Linked DNA regions of Homo sapiens. The protein of the gene in region 1 purifies or fractionates together with the protein of each later gene. This does not show direct contact. Each region holds a gene or a part of one and is shown in the gene's direction. Other genes may lie near its edges.

Evidence for each region.
Region 2: the proteins of PAIP2B (region 1) and PABPC4L purify together in Homo sapiens (affinity purification with mass spectrometry; one large-scale study listed by BioGRID and IntAct). This does not show direct contact.
Region 3: the proteins of PAIP2B (region 1) and RBMXL1 purify together in Homo sapiens (affinity purification with mass spectrometry; one large-scale study listed by BioGRID and IntAct). This does not show direct contact.
Region 4: the proteins of PAIP2B (region 1) and LARP1B purify together in Homo sapiens (affinity purification with mass spectrometry; one large-scale study listed by BioGRID and IntAct). This does not show direct contact.

The regions. Positions count from the first base shown.
Region 1 is NC_000002.12:71,217,104-71,220,603, reverse strand, and holds part of PAIP2B (polyadenylate-binding protein-interacting protein 2B), read left to right. Parts: intron 1-3,500. UniProt on the Homo sapiens protein: Inhibits translation of capped and polyadenylated mRNAs by displacing PABPC1 from the poly(A) tail.
Region 2 is NC_000004.12:134,198,990-134,203,084, reverse strand, and holds the start of PABPC4L (polyadenylate-binding protein 4-like), read left to right. Parts: upstream 1-1,295; 5' UTR 1,296-1,367; exon of another isoform or gene 1,368-1,839; 5' UTR 1,840-1,891; coding exon of another isoform or gene 1,892-2,065; coding exon 2,066-3,178; 3' UTR 3,179-4,095. UniProt on the Homo sapiens protein: May bind RNA.
Region 3 is NC_000001.11:88,978,956-88,982,629, reverse strand, and holds the end of RBMXL1 (RNA binding motif protein, X-linked-like-1), read left to right. Parts: 3' UTR 1-3,174; downstream 3,175-3,674.
Region 4 is NC_000004.12:128,204,312-128,207,811, forward strand, and holds part of LARP1B (la-related protein 1B), read left to right. Parts: intron 1-2,116; coding exon 2,117-2,226; intron 2,227-2,944; coding exon 2,945-3,072; intron 3,073-3,500.

The DNA.
Region 1 (3,500 bases):
GGACAGACTGAAGGAATTTATCCACCTTAATTTGAGTTAACATTTTTAAACATTTTATATTGCAGAAATAGTACATATTCACTGTTGTGAAATTAGAAATAATTGATTGGCAAGGAGCAGGGGACTACAAAGCACTCCACAGATCCACCATACTGAGACAGTGGTTAGTGCTTTGATGGGTTTATTGTATACTTTCTATGCATATACATGTATTGTATACATACATATGCATGGTTAAATAGAAATGGTTCATCCTAGCTGTTCTGTTTATCCCTTTATTTTTATGAAATAAATCCCCAAAGAGTACATTTGCTTTGTCCAAGGGAATCTTTTGTTACGTGCTGCTGTACATAATGAAAACTGAAAAAGGGGCTAATATTTCAGCCTAGTGACCATGTGGGCTTGCAGTAATTTAAATAGAGGCCTCATGAGAGGCACCTTCGGAAATGAATTTGGTGTGTGTAGGTGGTTATGCTTGGCATCATTGTTTGTGCTAGTATGATAGGGATGACTTCAGTGCCTGCCATCAGGGAACTGGTTAAGTAAACTATGGTACATCCAAATGATGGAATACTGTGTAGTTGTAAAGAAGAATGAGAAAGACCTATGTACTCATGTGGAAGAACTAGATATTGTGTGTGTTTTTAAAAAAGGAACAAGGAATGGTATATGGATGGCATAGTGTATATGGTATGCTACTTTTTGTGTTGAGAGAGAAGAGTAGAGTAAGAATATACGTGTGTTTGCAGAGATAACTTCTGAAATGATAATAAGAAACCAATTAAAAGTGTTTGGCTGTGGAGGGAGAATAGGACTATGAATGGGATTTTGCCACATACATTTATAGATAGTTATATTTTAAATATTTTTGAACTATGTATTTGCGCACATTACCCTTTTAAAAATAAGTGAATGAAGGAATGAAGTGGGATTATGAGAACGAGATAAGAAAAAAGGTTCTATGGGGCTGCCCATCTTTTTAGTACCCAGAGAATATTAATACATAGCAATAGCAGCAAAAATTGGAAGAGTAGCCCCAGGAAGGTGGGGAATCAGCCTTTCCTTTGTCTTTTCCTCAATTTCATATATTTTAAAAAATGAGAAGAGTAAAACAATTTAAAACAAAAATGTTTCCAGAACTTGTAAAATAAAAGGAATATGGGGCAGCTTTGTGTAGTGCACATCCCGAAAATGGGCTGATTCACCTCAAGAGGCAAGGAGTCAAGCTCTCTAGCCTACATGGGGTACATACATGAGAAAAATAAGAAAAAGAAAAGAAATGTAAAAATAAATGAAAATAACACTTATCCCTGATTATAAAGGAAATCACATTCTTTTTACAATAATTTAACAAAATATAAAGAAAAACCCTTAGGCTGGGCGCGGTGGCTCACGCCTGTAATCCCAGCACTTTGGGAGGCCAAGGTGGGTGGATCACAAGGTCAGGAGATTGAGACCATCCTGGCTAACACCGTGAAACCCCGTCTCTACTAAAAATACAAAAAAAAAAAAAAAAAAAAATTAGCTAGGCGTGGTGGCGGGCACCTGTAGTCCCAGCTACTCGGGAGGCTGAGGCAGGAGAATGGTGTGAACCCAGGAGGCGGAGCTTGCAGTGAGCCAAGATCGCGCCATTGCACTCCAGCCTAGGTGACAGAGTGAGACTCCATCTCAAAAAAAAAAAAAAGAAAAAAAAAGAAAAACCTTTAATTCTGCCACTCAAAACATTCTGGTTTGCTGCTTTTTATACTTTTTTATGCATATAAACATTTTTAAAAGTAGAATCATAAAATATAGTCTTTTGTCACATTATATTTTGGGCATGTTTCTGTGGCAGTAAATATATCCTGGCATCATCATTTTTAATAGCTGGCTATATATTAAGTGAATCATTGCCACTCCAGAGGTGAATTTCCTTATATATACATTTTAATGGACTTGAGCAAGCATTTTTGGACGGAATTCATAGAAGTAGAATTTCTGGAGGAAAATAACAAAAAAACAGTTTTAGGGTTTTTAATAGAAATTTTCAAATTATCCTGCAGGAAAATGGGTTCAGTGTATACTCCCACCAACAGTGACAGAGTTCCAGTTTCGCCCTTCCATTTGTCATCTTTGCTCGTCTTTAAGCAGAAAATCTCATTGTTTTAATTACATTTTCTTTAATTTCTAGTGCTTTTGAGTCTTTTTAATATGCTTATTGGCCATTTTTATTCTTGTGGGAAGTGCCTTATTTCTCCATTATTTGTTTTTTTCTGAGTAATTTTATAAAATTATAAAATAATTTTATCTTTTTTATCATTTTTCTTTTTCTGAGTAATTTTAAAGATTTCTTTATAGGCTAGGGATACAAACCTTTTATCTGTCATTGAGGTTACCAAAACTGTCTCCCAGTAAGTAATTTGTCATTTTGCTTTATTTTTTCTTTCTTTTTTTGCTAGCCAAGCTCCAAAGTCACATTTCACTTTATTTTTATTGGGCTGAATGAAAGCATTTTAACTTAGTGATTTTAGTGTAAACAGGAGTAGGGCAGAATGTAATTATCTAGGTCTTGGTCTGTCACCCAGGCTGGAGTGCAGTGGCATGATCATAGCTCCTGCAGCCTCAAACTCGTGGGCTCAAGTGATTTTCCCGCCTCAGCCTCCCAGGTAGCTAGGACTACAGGTATATACCACCACGCCCAGCAGATTTGAAAAATTTTTTGTAGAGATAAGAATTCGCTATGCTGCCCAGGCTGGTCCTGAATTCCCGACTTCAAGTAATCTCCCCCCTTGGCTTGCCAAAGTGCTGGGATTGTAGGCATGAGCTTCTGCTCCCAGCCGAGAGCTTACTTTTGTTTGCTAGTGGTGTTCTTGGTATCTTTTCATATTTGAGGCTTTATTGCTAGTACTGAGGTATTACCCTCACCATCTGAGGTTTGAGGACTTTTGTTTTTAATATTGAACAGATGGAACTGTTTAGTTCTGCATCTTTGCAGGTAACACAATGTGCCTACCAGGACTCTGCCTCATGTCCATTGAAAGCAAGAAGCAATACAGTAAAACTTTGCCTGGGTAGAGGCTTTGAAAGAATGGAGTATTCTGGTTTAATTCTATTAACTTGGAAGTATGAAGGTGAAAAAATTCAAAAGTTTAATTTCCTGTAGAATGCAATCCAAAAATATAGGCTGGGCTTGGTGGCTCACACCTGTAACCCCAGCACTGTGGGAGGCCCAGGTGGGTGGATCACCTGAGGTCAGGAGTTTGAGACCAGCCTGACCAACATGGTGAAATGGTGAAACCTTGTCTCTACTAAAAATAGAAAAATTAGCTGGGCCGTGGTGGTGGACTCCTGTAATCCCAGCTACTCGGGAGGCTGAGGCAGGAGAATCACTTGAACCTGGGAGGCGGAGGTTGCAGTGAGCCAAGATCATGCCACTGCACTCCAGCCTAGACGACAGTGAGACTCCGTCTCAAAAAAATTAAAATATATATATATAGCCAATAATTCCACTTTTCTTCTCT
Region 2 (4,095 bases), on another chromosome or scaffold:
TTATTTGTTGTTCAAAGAGTAGAGAAGGTGAGCTTCCCATTCACCTTTTCCCCAGGTGTGTGCAGAAGGGGGATTTTTAAGGTCTCTTAGAGCATGAAGGTGGAGACTAAGGATGCGAATTCCTGGAAAGAGGTGGGACTTTCCAGAGAAAACTAGAATGTGTGCAGTCTTGTTCTTTCTTTTGCACTGGGCACTTACTATATGTGCCTAGCAAAGGGCATCTCTCCCCACTGGGCAGAGATTTTAATATGATAAGGAAGTGAGGATTCAGGTCTGTCTGAGTAGCACTGCCAAGCTGAGTTTTTATCTCGTGGCTTGTTTGTGGCTACTGGCATCCAGCCCGGCTTTTGTTTCTGTAAACAAGTACAACTGAGACCACAGGTTAATTTCATAGGTTCTGGCACTCTTGGAGAATCAAGGTCATGCTACCGTGACAGTAACTTATTGACTCTCTAAGATGCATTATGATTCAAATTTTAAGGATTCATTAGATACTAAAGAATTTTATTTAATGCTAAAGAAAATGAAATCATTGTTACTGGAAACCACTTATGTATCTGATATTGTGTTATCCATTTCCAAATCTATTAACTCATTTCACACGTAAAATACTCTCTAAGATAAGTGCCACCGCCTCCATTTAACTAGATGTGAAAACTAACCTGAGGCTAAGATTTGTTCAATAAATACTGCACATCCCTTGTCTGCAAGTCCCTGAGAATAAAGTGCACATGGCTTCTATTGTTACGAAATATGCAATATTTTGTAATTAGACAAAAGCCGGCAAGTACAGGGTAGTGTTAGAGTTTCTAAGAGGGAAACCTAAATTGTCAGAGGGGTTTAGAAAAAACATCTATTTGGAAAGAGCATTTTAACTCATTTCCGAAGAACACATTTTTATAAAGTTGGCTCTGAAAAACGCTAGTGTGTCTTGGAGTTTTGTAAGGGGAACTAAGCAGCAGTTGAGGCTGGAACATTTCAGGAATCCTGCAGAACTTTATAGAACAAGGTGCGGATGTTGGACCTTATCCAAAAGTCAAAGGAAGCCACTGGAGGGTTTGAAGCCAGGAAGTGACAGGCCCTGATCCACATTTGGAAAGGCTCCTTCACTCAGACCCATGCAAAGCCCTGCGGGCGGGTGGGTTTATTGGGGCCACTCCCCTCGGCTGCCTTTCTCCACCCCAGTCACCGCCTCCTGCTTCTCAGCTTAGCCATCTGAGGAGGGTGGGAAACGTGTAATAGGGGCGGGGGGAAGAAAAACGTTCTTAAAAAAAATATTAAAAAGAAAACATCCCACTTGGCAGCGAGTGCGCGGGAAGTTCAGCGCGCGAGTTCCGGGCTTCCCGCCCGCCCGCAGACGACCGCCGGTGAGCCCCCAGCCCCCGCCTGGCCGCCCGCTTCGCCGCGTCCGTCAGTCCGTCGGTCTGTCAGCCTCCCCTTCCCCCACGCCTCCTTTCTCCGGGCGCCGCGCGGGTCGGGAGGTCGGAGGGGCCCCCTAGGTCTTCAGGACGCCCTTGGCCCGCGTCGCTGCCGGCAGCGCCTCGGCGGCGGCGGCGCCTGCAGAACCCGGTACCTGGCAGGTTCGGGTCTCTGCCGGGCAGAACCTCGCAGCCCATACTCCACGGCTGGGGCCTCTGACGCCTCCGCTTGTGGAGTTCTTCCCTGAGCGGCTGTAACTTTAAACCACTCTGAGCGAGGCCTATTTTTATTCAGAAACCAGCGACCAGGGCGTCTGTGGAGAATGCTCAGATGGAGGGCCAGCCCGCCACTTGAAGTTTTCTCACAAATCTGAGGGGAAGGAACGTCTTGTCCTAATAATCTCTCTTTGCGATTTCACAGTTCTGTTGCCGCGTCCTAGGAGGGCCAGATTGGTGGCTGTGGGGACTTTTGGATGAGGGTGTTGCCTGAGCTGGGGGAGTCGTGTCTGAACTCCATTGCTTGGCCTTTGTGTGGTGATCCCGAGGCCTCCACACTTGAACCGGGCCAAAGCTGTGACCTAGTATCCCCCCACAGGGATTGCTCAAAGAACTCCAGGGGACAAACTCACAGTGGCAAGGACAAGGAGATGAATGTAGCAGCCAAGTACCGCATGGCCTCCCTGTATGTGGGTGACTTACATGCAGATGTCACCGAGGACCTGCTGTTCAGGAAGTTCAGCACTGTGGGGCCTGTGCTGTCCATCCGCATTTGCAGGGACCAGGTCACCCGCCGCTCTCTGGGCTATGCCTACGTGAACTTCTTGCAGCTGGCTGATGCCCAGAAGGCGCTGGACACAATGAACTTTGACATCATAAAAGGCAAATCCATCCGTCTCATGTGGTCTCAGCGCGATGCCTACTTGAGGAGATCTGGAATTGGGAACGTATTCATCAAGAATCTGGACAAATCTATCGATAACAAAACCCTTTATGAACATTTTTCAGCTTTTGGAAAGATCCTTTCCTCCAAGGTGATGAGTGATGATCAAGGCTCCAAGGGCTATGCATTTGTGCACTTTCAGAACCAGAGTGCTGCAGACAGGGCCATTGAGGAGATGAATGGAAAACTACTCAAGGGCTGCAAGGTGTTTGTTGGCAGATTCAAAAACCGAAAAGATCGTGAAGCTGAACTCAGAAGCAAAGCCAGTGAATTCACCAATGTTTACATAAAAAACTTTGGAGGTGACATGGATGATGAGAGATTGAAGGACGTTTTCAGCAAATATGGCAAAACTCTGAGTGTTAAGGTGATGACAGATTCCAGTGGGAAATCCAAAGGCTTTGGCTTTGTGAGTTTTGATAGCCATGAGGCTGCCAAGAAAGCTGTTGAAGAAATGAATGGAAGGGACATAAATGGGCAGCTGATTTTTGTAGGCCGGGCTCAAAAGAAAGTCGAGCGACAGGCTGAGTTAAAGCAAATGTTTGAGCAGCTGAAAAGGGAACGAATTCGTGGGTGCCAGGGGGTAAAACTCTATATTAAGAACCTTGATGACACCATCGATGATGAAAAACTACGAAACGAATTTTCTTCATTTGGATCAATTAGCAGAGTTAAGGTAATGCAGGAAGAGGGGCAGAGCAAAGGGTTTGGCTTGATCTGCTTCTCCTCTCCTGAGGATGCTACTAAAGCAATGACTGAGATGAATGGCCGCATCTTGGGCTCCAAACCTCTTAGCATTGCCTTGGCCCAGAGACACTAGGAAAGAAAAACGTACCTTTCCAGCTAGTATCTGCAGCAGGTGGGAGAATGATAGTGATCTCTGCCTGAATTGACCTCAGTAAATTTCATATTCCACATGATGGGTGCTTAGTTTAGTAAACTTTATGATAAAACGTTTTTTATACAAAGCCATTTTTTTTCTTTTGTGGAAAAATAGATGGAGCTTAGTTCATTTTACAGAGGCACATTTTCTAATTTTAATATTGCACATTTTTCTTATTTTGATATGTTCATAGCAATAAGTATAAATAGATATATTTTTACATTTGAACCAAATGAAATGAGGTAATTATTTGAATTTATTGCATATTTATTATTTTAGTAATATTGCTAGCTTTAATTTCTTCTATGAAAATATGCTCAAAATAGTTCTTACAACTAAAGATTCCAAAGTATTTTTACCAACAGAAATTTTCTAATTTTTCATCCAAGTTTTGAGAAATCAAACTTTTAGAAATTTATAGTACGAATTTAAAGACCTAATTTCATTTTGAATTAATGCTTAAAATAGTCAGATATAGTTGAATTTCTTTTAAATTTATATCCTGACATGCTTGTTTTTCGGATGGTTTAAATTAAGATGATGGAAGTTTTTAATGTTGCCTAAAAACTGGCTTTATGTGTTTTGTTCTTTCCATTAGTTGACTATAATTCAGGTACTTACTAGTTAATCTAAATTGTAACTTGCACTGTAAAACCTTAACTTCTACATTCCTTAAGTTATAAATCTGTTATCAACTCAGGTGATCCAAAGTTGGCCTGGTCTTAAATCTCTTCATACCTATATGGCTTAATATATTATCTTAAATTTTTACCAGATGCTAATATTATGAAAATCATACATACAGATTATAGAAATTCTGTTTAAAAACTTTTAAAATCTCTTTTATATTGTTT
Region 3 (3,674 bases), on another chromosome or scaffold:
ATCCCAGTTCAAAGAAACAAAAAAAAGAGTGGAAACTATTCTATCATAACTACCCAAGGACTACTAAAAGGAAAAATTGTGTTACCTTTTTTAAATTCCCTGTTAAGTCCCTTCCGTAATTTTTATGTTCTTGTGAGGAAAAAAGTAAAACATGTTTAATTTTATTTGACTTTATGACATTGCTTTTCAACAAGCAAATGTTAAATGTGTTAAGCCTTGTAGTACTAGTGTTGTAACTTTCCAAGTAAAGGTGTCCCTAAAGACCACTTCCTATCTGGTTTTTCCCAGTAAATGAGGCAAGCAATTCTAAGATCTTCCACAAAACATCTAGCCAACTAAAATGGAGAGATGAATCATTCTGCCTATACAAACAAGCTAGCTATTAGAGGGTGGTTGGAGTATGCTACTCATAAGATTTCAGGGTGTTTTCTAACTGAAATCTCACTGTTCTCAGTATGCAAAACCTGAAATCAGATGCCTATGTAAGGAAAGTGCTATTCACCCAGTAAACCCAAAAAAAGCAAATGGATAATGCTGGCCATTTTGCCTTTCTGACATTTCCTTGGGAATCTGCAAGAACCTCCCCTTTCCCCTCCCACAATAAGACCATTTAAGTGTGTGCTAAACAACTACGGAATACTAAATAAAAAGTTTGGCCAAAACCAACCATGAAGCTGCAAAGGTGCTTGCTCTTACTCTTTCAAATTTTTGCAACTCTAATGTCTCACTTTTAAAGGAACAGCTTGATTGCAAAGGAGAAAATAGATAAGCAATGAATTTATCTCCAACTTCCTAAAGGCTTATGACTTCTAAAAAGTGAATCTATCAGCATTCCACATCAGATTTAAAGCATCAAATGCCTGTGAAACAGCAAAGATGGTTGAAGATTGTGCTCATTATGTTTGTGGAGTGCTGATTGATTCACAGTAGATAACGCTGGCAGTAAGAGAAATCAAATGCTAAGAGTTGTTGAAGCAGAAGGCGGCTGATTGTTGGTAAGTCAGTGCAGTTGCATAAGCAGTGCTGTCAGAATTGGTTTGGTGCAGGCAATAGATTTTGCCTTCAAGGGTTCCTGTGGATCTCAGGAAGGCATCAGTGTTGATTAACACTCATAACTAGGGAGTGAGTGGTAGTTACTTAAGTAATTGACCAAATGGAAAAGGGGAAGTAATTAAGGAAATTGGTAAGTGGAGGTAGTCAGGAGGTTCTCGTGGTCCTTTACACAGATTTTACAGCTTTGGGTTTCATTTTGTTTAGCTAAAGTCATGGGGACAACTCTTCAATTTAGAACTTAAGATGAATTATAAAAATGATGGATATAAGTGGTAGCTCTATCTGGTGAAGTGTCTTGTCAGTAAGTGAAACATTTTTTTGTGGTGGCTTATCCACAAACAGTTTAGTTGTAGAATAAAACTTATGAGTGACATCTGGAAAGTAACAACCATGCTAAGATGGCAAACACACTGGAAACAATTGGGCCACTTGGCTTTCTTTTGCTGTATTGTTTTATAAGCCTGCTTTACCTCCCCGTCTTGGAAACAAGTTTTAGTTTATTGCTTTGGAGACTAGAGCCAATAGTGTAATGTTCTCAAAGGAAACAGACTTGAGTTGTTGGATTAGAGGAACTAACTCAACTTCTAATTTTTTTTGTTGTAATTATGGCACTGTCATGTTTTAACATTTGCAACTAGGGATAGTAAGTACAACATTTTTAACTCTCATTTGGCAGACTACTACTAATCACAGACCACAAGGGTAATGACCAAATTTATGTGGTTGTTACACTTCCATAGTTGTCTTAGCCGAATCCTTCCATATTCTTATGATTACTTGGGTTAAAGCTTCTGTGAGGACCTTTTGGCTCTTAAGATATCCTAAATATTTAAAATATTTAGATATCCTAAATATAGGATATAGAGTTTGTACCAAATATGAATGAATATTGTTCAAAGCAAGGAGTATGTTAAAATGACCAGACACCTGTTTGATAAATAGTTTACTGAACTAGCAGACGTGTGGAAAAAGAATCAGATCTTGATTCTTCTGGGTTTATACTGGTTGTAAAACAGAATGATATTAGAAAATGTTTTCCTTGTTTAAGTGGTAGTTGAACATAGAACTTGGGTATTATAGATCACTTTTCACTTTTTGGAATGTTTTGTATTGAAACTTAATACAACTTTAACATGGCAAAAAAAAAAAAAATCCAAAATCTATGAGATAATTTTGTTAAAGTTGGCTTGCTTGGGCGGGTGCTTGGTCCAGAGGGAGAAAAGAAGGCATGATTTCAGAATACTCTGGCAGCTTTTTAAATTCAGCTTTATCAAGTTACAGTAAACTGTATCTGTTTAGAATTACAACTCAATGGTTATTTTGACAGATGTATATGCCATGAAGCCACTGTCACCATCAACATGCAGAACACTTCCATCGCCCCCAAAAGATTCCTCAAGTTCCTTTGCAGTCCATCCCTCACGCTGCTGATTTGTCTTTGTCACCATATATTAGTTTGCTTTGTGGTGGTGTTTAGTATTTTATATAAATGGGATTGTGTAGCATGTACTTTTTTGTTTATGGTTTCTTTCACACACAATGACTTTGAAATTCACCAGGTTGCAGTGTATCAGTAGCTTATTCCTTTTATTGCTGAGTAGTGTCCCATTATGTGAATATGCCATTATTTGTTTTTCTACTCACCTGTTGATGGACCTTGGGATTGTTTCCAGTTTGGGGCTACTGTGAATAAAACTGTTAGGAACATTTGTGTACAAGCCACTGTGTAGACATAGGTTTTCCTTTCTCTTGGGTAAATACCTACCAGTAAAATGGTTGGGTTGCATGGCAGATTTATGTTTAATAAAGTAACTGCCAAACTGTTTGTTTTCCAAAGGGGCTATACCCTTTTATATTCCCACCAGGGTTGTATAGAGTTCCAACTGCCAACACTCAGTTTTCAGCCATTCTGATGGGAATCTAGTGGTATCTCATTGTGGTTTTATTTTCATTTCCCCGGGTGACTAATGCTGGTAAGCATCTTTTAAGGTACTTTTTGGCCAGTTGTATATTTTCTGTGAAGTGGCTGTCAAATCTTTTGCCCACTTTTAATTGGATTGTTTGTCTTATTGAGTTGTAAAAGTTCTTTATATATACTGTATTAAAGTCCTTTGTAAGACACATGTTCGTAAATACTTTTCTTTCATTATATGGCTCAGAATCTGGCAACTTTTTAAGAGATACTTGAGCCCACTGAATGATATATAGATCTTATAGTTTTTTTAAGTCAAGCCTTAATAATAATTAACATTTTTTGAGTGTTCATCTCTCAGTCCCTCTATGGCCATGAAGGTGGGAGATGTGACTCTGTTTAGTCTCAAGTAAAGAAATGCAAACTGAGATAATGGGTACAAATGGAGATGAAGCAAAGCCCTGTGATGTTCAAGTTCCTGGTTTCTGTTACCATTCAGTCTGGCTGGACCTCTGCCTTTCCCATGGTAACATGACCTTTCTAATGAATTCTCCCTTTTCATCTAAACTGTTTCAGATTGAGTTTCTCTCACATAACTAAGAGATCTGATTACTATAGCTTCGGAGCTTCTAAGGCATCTTATGCACTTGTCTCTTCCCCACTGTTCAATCTGAAGCATGTACTCTGCCCTTTAGCAAAAATCACAACT
Region 4 (3,500 bases), on another chromosome or scaffold:
GCATAATAGGGTGACTATAGTCAATGGTAGCTTAATTGTACATTTTAAAATGGCTTAAAGAGGCCAGGCGTGGTGGCTCATGCCTGTAATCCCAGCACTTTGGGAGACCGAGGTAGGTGGATCACATGACATTAGGAGTTCAAGACCAGCCTGGCCAACATGGTGAAACCCCATCTCTACTAAAAATACAAAAATTAGCCAGACGTGGTGGCAGGCGCCTGTAATCCCAGCTACTTGGGAGGCTGAGGCAGGAGAATCACTTGAACCCAGGAGGTGGAGGTTGCAGTGAGCCGAGATCGCACCACTACACTCCATCCTGGGCAACAAGAGTAAAACTCTGTCTCAAAAAAAAAAAAATTAAAATTAAAAAATAAATAAATAAAATGGCTTAAAGAGTATAATTGAATTGTTTGTAACTCAAAGGATAAATGCTTGAGGGGATGGATACTCCATTCCCAATGATATGCTTATCTCACATTGCATGCCTGTATCAAAACATGTCATGTGCCCCATAAATATATGCACCCACTGTGTACCCACAAAAATTTTAAAAATTAAAAAAAAAGATCCTGATTCCATTGGTTTGGAGCAGAGCCTGGGCATCAGTATTTTTAAAAGCTCCCCAGATGATTATAATGTGTAGCTAAGATTGAGAACAACTGATGTCGGTATATGATCCCATAAGAGGAACATCAAAGCAAGTTTGTCATTCTGAACTGTGGTTCCTTTAGTCTTTGATCTCCTTAGACTTCAGTCATGCAAGCTCAACCAGTAGCATCACTTAAGGCTATGGGAGCCAAGGGCTCAGGTTGCTGTATAAGTGTGTAGTTGGCAGTCCTGCATTTCTCTTGTTGGCTTGCCAGACCATCACTCTTCGTCTTGTAAATAAGCTGGTTGCAAAAGAGACACACAATCACATACCCTGCTTCCTGTGACTGACAGCCAGTTAATATTATGTTAGCAGAATGAAGAGGTTGTAACCTTTCTGCTGAGGTACCCAGAATGACTTAGGATTCTAACTTAGGAGTGTTTTAATTGTGGTATCTTTTAGTTGAGTCAGCTAGACAAGGTCTTTTTGCTGCCATCTTACAGCCTTGTTTCACTCTCATGGGTTCTGCTCATCACCTGTGGTTGAAGGTTGAGCCTATATAGTTTGCTGATCTACTGAGCAGAACTCCTAGATTCTCAAGATAGTTATAGACAGAAACAAGGAAATTTGTTTTCTCATTTACGTAGTGATTATAGCTCTATTAGCAATATATCTACTATTAATTGTACTTTATAATGAAAGCAGGGAGGCTCTCTTAACCATTTAATTATGTTTGTACCATTATAGTTGAATGGGACAGCCACACCTGGGATCTAGGGCACAGCCGTACAGTCTTTATCTTCCTAGAGTAAAGCTTACATTCAAGAGTATTTATTTAATGCTGTGTACAAAGATACCATTATAAATTTTGGTTTGGGGAAAATCTAACACATCCCCAATTTATCACTAAATCTTTTGGCCAGTTCTTCAGAAATACCAGGGAGAGATAATGTGTGCATCTAAAGAGGTCATACTGAACTGTCCAAGGGCTGCCTTTCATGCAGCAGGTTCTCAGTATACCTTCATGATGTGCTACGGCTGAGTCAACAAAAATAGCAAAGCCAGCTGTAGATTACTAATTACCAGTTCAGTTAAAAATCTGCATACCGGCCGGGCGCAGTGACTCACACCTGTAATCCCAGCACTTTGGGAGGCCGAGGCAGATGGATCCCCTGAGGCCAGGAGTTTGAGACCAGCCTGGCCAACATGGTGAAACCCCGTCTCTACTAAAAATACAAAAAATTAGCTGGATGTGGTGGTGGGCACCTGTAATCCCAGCTACTCGGGAGGCTGAGGCAGGAGAATAGCTTGAACCAGGGAGGCGGAGGTTGCAGTGAGCCGAGGTCGCACCATTGCACTCCAGCCTGAGCAACAAGAGTGAGACTCTGTCTCAAAAATAATTAAAAAATCTGAATGCTAAAATTTTATTTTTTGTTTAGGATTAGTTGTGCCATGTTTGCTTATATTGATGTTACTAACTATAGAGATATTGTATTTTATTATAAACCTTTTATTTTCTCTTTATAGGTATGGGTTAGAATGTCTGTTCAGGTTTTATAGTTATGGACTGGAAAAAAAATTCAGGCGAGAAATTTTTCAGGATTTCCAAGAAGAAACCAAAAAAGACTACGAATCTGGTAACAATAACATCAGAAAACTTGTACTCTAATTGGAAATTGTAAACCTGAGTCTGTCAGTAAATAGGGAAGGAGTTCATAGTTTTTTTCTTCAGGGCAAACCATTTAAGATCTTCATGCTATTGTTGTGTTTCTTGATGAAGGATGGGGCACCAGGTAGTAAGAAGGCCTTTCCTGGGAGGTGTTGGAAAGTAACTACTCTCAAGTCTTTCTTTTATGGAGGTATATTTTGTCATTATCCCTTTGACAAACGTGGCTACTCACTGATGTTCCGTTACATGAAAATTCTATGCAACATCAGCAGGTAAGCTTGGAAAGGCAGAAATAGCACAGTGGTTAAGAGTGCAGGCTCTGGGACAGACTGCTAGGTGCAAATTCCCTTTCCACTATTTAGAAGCTATGTGATTGTGGGTAAATTGCCTACCCTTGCTAGCCTCAGTTTTCTCATCTGTAACATATATGAGAACACCCATCTTTTGGGTTGTATATGGTTCAAATTAGTTTGATGCATAATAAAGCACTTAATGCTTGTTACATAACAAATGCTCAATAAATATTAGCTGCCATTATTGGTTAATTCATTACATGTCTTATTCTCAAGATCTAGAGTAAGCATATATTGGAAGATAAATTGTTTATTGCTGATAGGATTATATTTAATGTGAATAATTTTTAAAATTTCATATAATTCATAATGTATATTATTCTTTGTTATTAGGTCAGCTGTATGGACTAGAAAAGTTTTGGGCTTATTTGAAATATTCTCAATCTAAGACACAGTCTATTGACCCAAAACTTCAGGAATACCTCTGTAGTTTTAAGAGGTTAGAAGACTTCCGTGTTGATGTAAGTTTTAAGTCATTTCCTCTATTCTTTTTATTATCCATATATTTCAGTCTCTTATCAGTGACTTTTTAAGCTTTAATTTTGTAATTTTTATTTTTTAACTTTTTAGTTTTAAAATTAAACTTTGAAATAGATATAAAAATAGTTCAGAGAATTCCCATATACTCTGTTCACTCAGATTTCGCAAATGTTAACATCTTGTATAACCACAGTGCAATTGTTAATTCAATTTAATTTTCATATGCTGCTATAATTAAACATTTTCTAGATTTATTAATTTTTACCTGATATGCTAATTTGTCACTAGCAATGTGAAAACTTTTCACTTTTTAATGATCTTTTATCCATATAATTCCTGTAACATGTGCTGATATGGATTTAGGGTACCTGCATAATAAAATTAAGGAGAGAATGTTGTGTGCATGTGT